Linked DNA regions of Homo sapiens. The protein of the gene in region 2 purifies or fractionates together with the protein of the main gene of each other region. This does not show direct contact. Each region holds a gene or a part of one and is shown on either strand. Other genes may lie near its edges.

The links. Proteins that work in one complex are often made in the same cells at the same time.
Region 1: the proteins of DNAJA3 (region 2) and ATAD3A purify together in Homo sapiens (tandem affinity purification; one large-scale study listed by IntAct). This does not show direct contact.

Annotation. Positions count from the first base shown.
Region 1 is NC_000001.11:1,522,162-1,525,661, reverse strand, and holds part of ATAD3A (ATPase family AAA domain-containing protein 3A), read right to left. Parts: intron 2,919-3,500; coding exon 2,763-2,918; intron 2,152-2,762; coding exon 2,095-2,151; intron 1,824-2,094; coding exon 1,698-1,823; intron 1,390-1,697; coding exon 1,265-1,389; intron 423-1,264; coding exon 371-422; intron 1-370. UniProt on the Homo sapiens protein: Essential for mitochondrial network organization, mitochondrial metabolism and cell growth at organism and cellular level. May play an important role in mitochondrial protein synthesis. May also participate in mitochondrial DNA replication.
Region 2 is NC_000016.10:4,442,868-4,446,367, forward strand, and holds part of DNAJA3 (dnaJ homolog subfamily A member 3, mitochondrial), read left to right. Parts: intron 1-149; coding exon 150-297; intron 298-1,796; coding exon 1,797-1,861; intron 1,862-3,500. UniProt on the Homo sapiens protein: Modulates apoptotic signal transduction or effector structures within the mitochondrial matrix. Affect cytochrome C release from the mitochondria and caspase 3 activation, but not caspase 8 activation.

The DNA of each region.
Region 1 (3,500 bases), on a different chromosome or scaffold from region 2:
CGGGAGGATCACGAGGTCAGGAGATCGAGACCATCCTGGCTAACACGGTGAAACCCCGTCTCTGCTAAAAACACAAAAAATTAGCCAGGTGTGGTGGCGGGAGCCTGTAGTCCCAGCTACTTGGGAGGCTGAGGCGGGAGAATGGCGTGAACCTGGGAGGTGGAGCTTGCAGTGAGCCGAGATGGGGCCATTGCACTCCAGCCTGGGTGATAGAGCGAGATTTCTTCTCAAAAAAAAAAAAAAAAAAAGCTGTTTTTCACACAAAGCTTACAGAGAAAAAGAAACTGAACAGAGGGCTGCAGCCTGGCCCAGGCAGACGGCTGTGCCCACCCCACCACCCCATTGTGGCCAGAGGCTTAGTGACACTCACGGTGGCTCGCTTCCGAAGGAAGGCGTCCGCTTCATCCACAAAGAGCAGGAGGCTGTGAACGAGAGGGAGGCCAAGCAGGGCGAGAGTGACACCAGGAGCAGCCCACAGCAGCGTCCGGCCGCGGCAGGAGCAGGCCAAGCAGGCAGATCCCCACGGGGTCAGGCTCTGCCCCATCAGCAGCCCTAAGTCCTGGACTCGACAGAAGCCGATCAGCCTGGCCTCTGGGCAGCTGACCACGGCCCAGCCTCAGAAGGCCGTGGGAAACCAACCACACACGGGGGCGACGAACTCCGCCCCACAGGCTTCACCCCCACCCGGCCCAGTGCAGCACTGGTGGCCGCTTAGAGTCCACGACAGGGACAGGTCTTCTAAAGTGAAAGGTCAAAGGCCAGAGGGGAGGGTGCCAACCATGAGCATCGTGGTTCCAACGAGGACAGCCGAGGCCACAAGGGTGCCCGGGCTGTGCCCTGCGCGGGGTCACTGTGGGACCTATTGAAGGGAGTGTGCCATGCTGTCTTCAGCTAACTTTCAAATGGTTCTAGAAAAGGCAACCAGTGCCCACGCCCACCTGCAGGCGTGTTGGGGGGAGGGCGGCTGTGGAGGAGCCTCCCCTGCAGCTGTGAAGACTCCTCTCCCCCTGCACCCACCCACCTCCCTTCTGCCCTGAGCCAAGTATCCCACTGGCAGCCTCCACACGCTGGGGGCCTCGTGTCCACCAGGGTCCACACTCAGGGGACTTTCCCTCCGAGGGACCCTCCACTGGGCCTCCTGCGTGGCCACAAGGACAGAGCTGCAGAAAGACAGGGTCCCCAAGAGACACCTGGACCCCCTTCCCAGAAGGCAGCCTGCTGGGCCGCAGCCAAGGGCCTGGTGCATGCTGTGGGGACGTCTCACCCGCGCCGGCTGGTATTGGCCCAGTCAAAGAGCTTGTGCATGGCGGTCACGCCTTCCCGCCCCATGGGGGCCACGTCCCCGCCTGTCATGATGGCGTAGTCCATGCCTGAGTGCAGGGCGAGTTTCTGGACAGGAAGAGTGAGGGGAGACAGAGCAGATGTTCCCTCCGCCTCTGCAAAGCCTGCACACTCCACCCGGAGTGTGGAGGCTCTGCCCAGCGTCCCTGCCTGGAAGCCACAGCCTGCCAGACAGGAGACGTCCCCCGCCTGGAAGATGGGAGGCGCTGCTGCCCACACCAGCACCCTGAGCCTACACGAGGGTGGGCAAAGGCCTAAGGGGGGTCCATTCCCCAGGCAGCTGAGCCCCCCAGACACCTGCAGGCAGGTGAGACCCCAGCGGCCCCTGGCCCACCTGTTCAGCCAGGCGCTCTCACCTTGGCAAACAGCGTCTTCCCGGTGCCTGGTGGCCCGTACATCAGGATGTTCCTGTACAGGCTGCGGTTCTTCTTGGTGTTCCTTGTTGCTATGGCGATGTCGCGCACCCGTGCTTCCAGGCTGGGCTGCCGGGGAAGACGGGGGTTTGGAGGAGACACTGTGCACCCATGGAAGCCTCAGGGGAAGGGGCTGCGGGAATGCCTGGGTGCAGACTCGGCTCCTCGGGAAGCCTCCCACCTCAGGGGCAGCCTATCTATCCCCAGCACGGTCCAAGCAGTCGCATCTCAGGACCCAAAAGCTCCTGGGTGCCACCACGAGCGCCAGCAAGGGCCACAGCCCGGCCCAGCTCCAGGGTCCCCTCCCTGCGCCTCCCCGGTCCCAGGCACACCGACTTACACTGAGCACAACACCCTCCAGCGCGTCCTGGGGTCGACTGAGGAGCCGCCGGCTGACCTGCCGGAGGGGAAGGGGAAGCGCCATCGGGTCACCTGCCACAGCCACGGAACAGCCACCAACGCGCACACACACGCTCGGTAACACGCAGAAACGGAGCTGCCCCAAAGCACAGCCAGGACCGGCCCGGAGCTGGAACCCTGCCCCGCCCGGAGACCAGGCGGCTATTGCTGGGATTAGGGGCATTTTCCGGTTCCTTATTGGCTTTTATTTTCTTAACCACCTACCCAGTGACCTGTGGAGAGCAGGCACCTCGGGGGCGGCGAGCGGCGCGGCTCCCCAGGGAGGCCACCAGACGCCGTGGCCTGTAGCAGCTTCCCTGATAGACGGCCGCACACCCAAGTCCCGGGTCTTGCAAGGACCCCGATGTGCTCCCAGGCCCCATCAAGAGCCCTGAGCAGGGGACACCGAGGCAGACAGGGGAAGGGTCTCACTGATGCAGACCCCTAAGGTACAGCGCCAGACAGGAAAACCCACCCGTGAAGCAGTGTGCGGGTGCCCGTTATCCGGGGAAAGGGAAGGGACGGGAGGGTGTGCGTGGGCTGTGCTCGTGGGGCAGAAGGGACTCAGCCAGGAACTGCACTCAGGGAGGGCCAGGCCTGCGCTGCTACCTGGATGGGGTGCCGCAGCGCCTCAAGCACCGTGATGCGGGACGTCTCCCTCACTAGGGACGGCTTCCCCAGCCGAGCCTCGATGAAGCGGCCGGCGACAAGCGTGGCATTCTTGGCTGAGTAGACCCCAACAGCCAGCAGCGTCAGCCCAGCCACCTGCAGCAGAGACACCGCACTGGCGCACCGGCCCCCACCGTCCCTCCCTCTTAGAGCAGGAGACGCACGGGGCTGCCCCCACCCTCTCTCCGCCCGAGGGAGAAGCACAGGGCCGTGCACTGGCCCCACAGGAACGCGAATTCCCGGCCCCGAATCCCACAGCCACGCGGTTACAGGAGGCAGGTGGGGCAGTCACAGCGCCCTCACTCAGGGCCATTTTCTCTGCAACTGGCAGCATAAATCCTAGAAAGCCTCGGTCGCTGAGCGGGGCCCTGGACAGACCCAGCCGGATGTCACAGGGCCACACCCTCTGGTACATTCTTGGCCACTAAAAATGGTACTTTATTCCTGGAAAACAAGACTAACCCAAAATCTCTAACTCGTTTTAAAAATCAATTAGGCTGGCTGGGCACAGTAGCTCAGGTCTGTAATCCCAGCACTTTGGGAGGCTGAGGCAGGTGGATCACCTGAGGTCAAGAGTTCAAGACCAGCCTAACCCACATGGAGAAACCCCGTCTCTACTAAAAATACAAAAAATTAGCTGGCCATGGTGGCACATGCCTGTAATCCCATCTACTTGGG
Region 2 (3,500 bases):
GCACCTGGGTTCCTAGGCAGTGTGTTTGAGTGCACATGCACATAAAAAACAAGCCTTAAAGAGACATTTTTCTTACGCACATTGTGGTCCCAGAACCACCCATCAGTTTACCTGCGTACTTAGGTTACCATTTTTCTTGTTTTTATCAGGAAACCATCAACACAGGCCCTTTTGTGATGCGTTCCACGTGTAGGAGATGTGGTGGCCGCGGCTCCATCATCATATCGCCCTGTGTGGTCTGCAGGGGAGCAGGACAAGCCAAGCAGAAAAAGCGAGTGATGATCCCTGTGCCTGCAGGTGGGTGCTTGGGCCCGCCATGTCCAGGAGCTTGGAGAGGGCAGACAGGGTTGAGGCTACCACACCGTGTGGAGAGGGTGGACAGGGCCGAGGCCACTGCACTGAGTGTGAGTGGGCTCTTGGTAGAAGTTATGGTTGAGGCCCTGGAGCCCCAGGCTGGAGGAGGAACTGGAGTCTCCTTGAATCTTTCTGTTTCTGCCAGTTATCCTTAAAATTTACACTTTGCATGTCACAATGGGGAGAAGAGACCTGACGTGCCTACTCTGCTTCTTCCTGGTGAGGGAGCAGCTTCCAACCCCCGGGCTCCTCTCCTCTCTCCCCTGTCTTAGTCACCGAAGCCATCATTGTCCCTGCTGCCACCCTATCTACATCAGCCCCACGGATCCCACCCCTCACTCCATGTCTACTGTTCCCTTGCCCAAAACTCACTTTCTGCTTTCTTTTTTCGGTTAACTTTATTCATCTTGGAGATCCCAGCTTGAGTATCCCTTCCCTAGCTAGCCTCACACCCTCCTCCCTGTTCTTTTTTTTTTCTTTTTTGAGACGGAGTCTCGCTCTGTCACCCAGGCTGGAGCGCAGTGGCCCGATCTCGGCCCACTGCAAGCTCTGCCTCCCAGGCTCATGCCATTCTCCTGCCTCAGCCTCCCAAGGAGCTGGGACTACAGGCACCTGCCACCACACCCAGCTAATTTTTTGTATTTTTAGTAGAGACGGGGTTTCATCGTGTTAGCCAGGATGGTCTCGATCTCCTGACCTCGTGATCCACCCGCCTCGGCTTCCCAAAGTGCTGAGATTATAGTCATGAGCCACCGCGCGTGGCCTGCTTTACTGTTGTTTAGATGTCTGTTTCTCTAGAGTTGTGAGCATTTCCATTGAAGAGCATGTCTCTGTTTGTAGTTATGCATTAGTGCTATCGTTTGGTTAACACCCATCACCCCAGTGAGACCATGAACTCCCTGAGGTACTGCCTAGACCAAGCCTGAGGCAGGTGCTCAGTCATCAGGTGTCTGTGTTGCATCTCTGGAAGGTTACCCATGTGCCTCTTAGATAATGACATTGTTCCTCGTTAATAAGAAACAGGAGTGGGGAAGAAGCTGTGGGTTACAAGTGGATCTTGGGTGGAAAGTGCTGTGGGAGGTCTCACAATAACTGCTCCCTTTCTTTTTTTTCTTTTTCTTTTCTTTTTTTTTTTTTTTTTAAGACGGAGTCTCGCTCTGTTGCCAGGCTGGCGTGTAGTGGAGTGATCTCGGCTCACTGCAACCTCCGCCTCCTGGGTTCAAGCGATTCTCTTTCCTCAGCCTCCTGAGTAGCTGGGACTACAGGCGTGTGCCACCACGCCCAGTTAATTTTTAGTAGAGACCAGGTTTCACCATGTTGGCCAGGATGGTCTCGATCTCTTGACGTCATGATCTGCCCGCCTCGGCCTCCCAAAGTGCTGGGATTACAGGCGTGAGCCACCGCGTCCTGCCTAACTTCTCCCTTTCTAATGTCCCTTGTAGGAGTCGAGGATGGCCAGACCGTGAGGATGCCTGTGGGAAAAAGGGAAATTTTCATTACGTTCAGGGTAGGTGCCCTGCCCCGCACAGCTTCTGTTGGGCCTTTCCTCTCTTCGGGTGGGTGTGGCTGAGGCTGCTCCCATGTAATCAAAGCTTCACAGGAACATGTCTCGCCATTCATGTTTCTGAGGGGCACAGTGGCCACCTAGATGTGGTTTTTAGCTGTTTGTTACCTTCAAGATTCTGTGCCTTGTGTGGAGAGAAGACAACTTCTTCAACATGCTAACAAGTTAGAAATACAGGTCACATAAAAATACAGGAAACATCTTGTGTTTTTATGATAAGATTGTTGATGAGGCAGTGAGTGTGAAAGTTACAATTTTACATACTGTATACAGGGGCAAACCTTGGTTTTCTGAGATGGTGGAAACATTAATGAAGACAATGCCTTCTACTGGCAATTGCCCTCCTATGTGTACACCTGAGAAAAACCCACACAAGCCTAGCAGGCGATAGGTACAAAGGGGTGCACAAGAGTCCTGTCCATGGTAGCAAGACACTGCCTTCCTCCAACAAGAGAATGGCTCAGTGAGCCGTGGTGGTCAGAGGCTGCTGCAGGGCAGTCGGAAGGAAAGAATGAGAGCTGAACTCAAGGGATGCTCCAGGCGTTGCAGGTACAGACAGCAGGGATGGAAGGCAGCTTGCCAGTGGCTGTAGGGCCTCAGAGACCATCTGTGTAAAGTTTTAAAACCTGTGAGATGGCATTATGTATTATTTAGGGACACGGAAATACATAGTAAGTAGAAGCTTGTAGGAATGATAAATGTTAAAGTCAGGGTTGTGGTTAGCTGAGGAGGGCAAGACTCACCGGTGTTTATGATGTTTTATTTTATTTTACTTTATTTTTTGAGGTGGGGTATTGCTTTGTTGCCTAGGATGAAATGCAGTGGGGCAGTCTTGGCTCACTGTAGCCTCAGACTCCCTGGGCTCAGGTGATCCTCCCACCTCAGCCTCCTGAGTAGCTGGGACTACAGGCACACGCCACCAGGCCCGGCTGACTTTTGTATCTTTAGTAAAGATGAGGTTTCACCATGTTGCCCAGGGTGGTCTCAAACCCCAGGGCTCAAATGATCCACCCACCTTGGCCTCCCAAAGTGCTGGGATTACAGGTATGAGCCACTGCGCCCGGCCTGTGATATTTTGTTACCTCCACTGGGTTGTGGGTATGACATGCTTGTTATATTATTTACTCTTCCCTTTTTTTTCTTTTTTTTTTCTGGAAAGAGAGTCTTGCTCTGTTGCCCAGTCTGGAGTGCAGTGGCATGATCTCAGCTCACTGCAACCTCCACCTCCCAGGTTCAAGCGATTCTCTTGCCTCAGCCTCCTGAGTAGCTGGGACTACAGGCATGCGCCACTACACCCAGGTAATTTTTGTATTTTTAGTAGAGATGGGGTTTCACCATGTTGGCAGGCTGGTCTCGAATTCCTGACCTCAGGTGATCCACCCACCTTAGCCTTCCAAAGTGCTGGGATTACAAGCGTGAGCCACCACGGCTGGCCTATACTTTCTAATAAAGTAAGATTTTTTTTTTTTTTTTTTTGAGGTGGAGTCTCGCTCTGTTGCTCAGGCTGGAGTGCAGTGGTGTGATCTCTGTTCAGTGCAAACTTCATCTCCCAGGTTCAAGTGGATCTTCTGCCTCAGCCTCC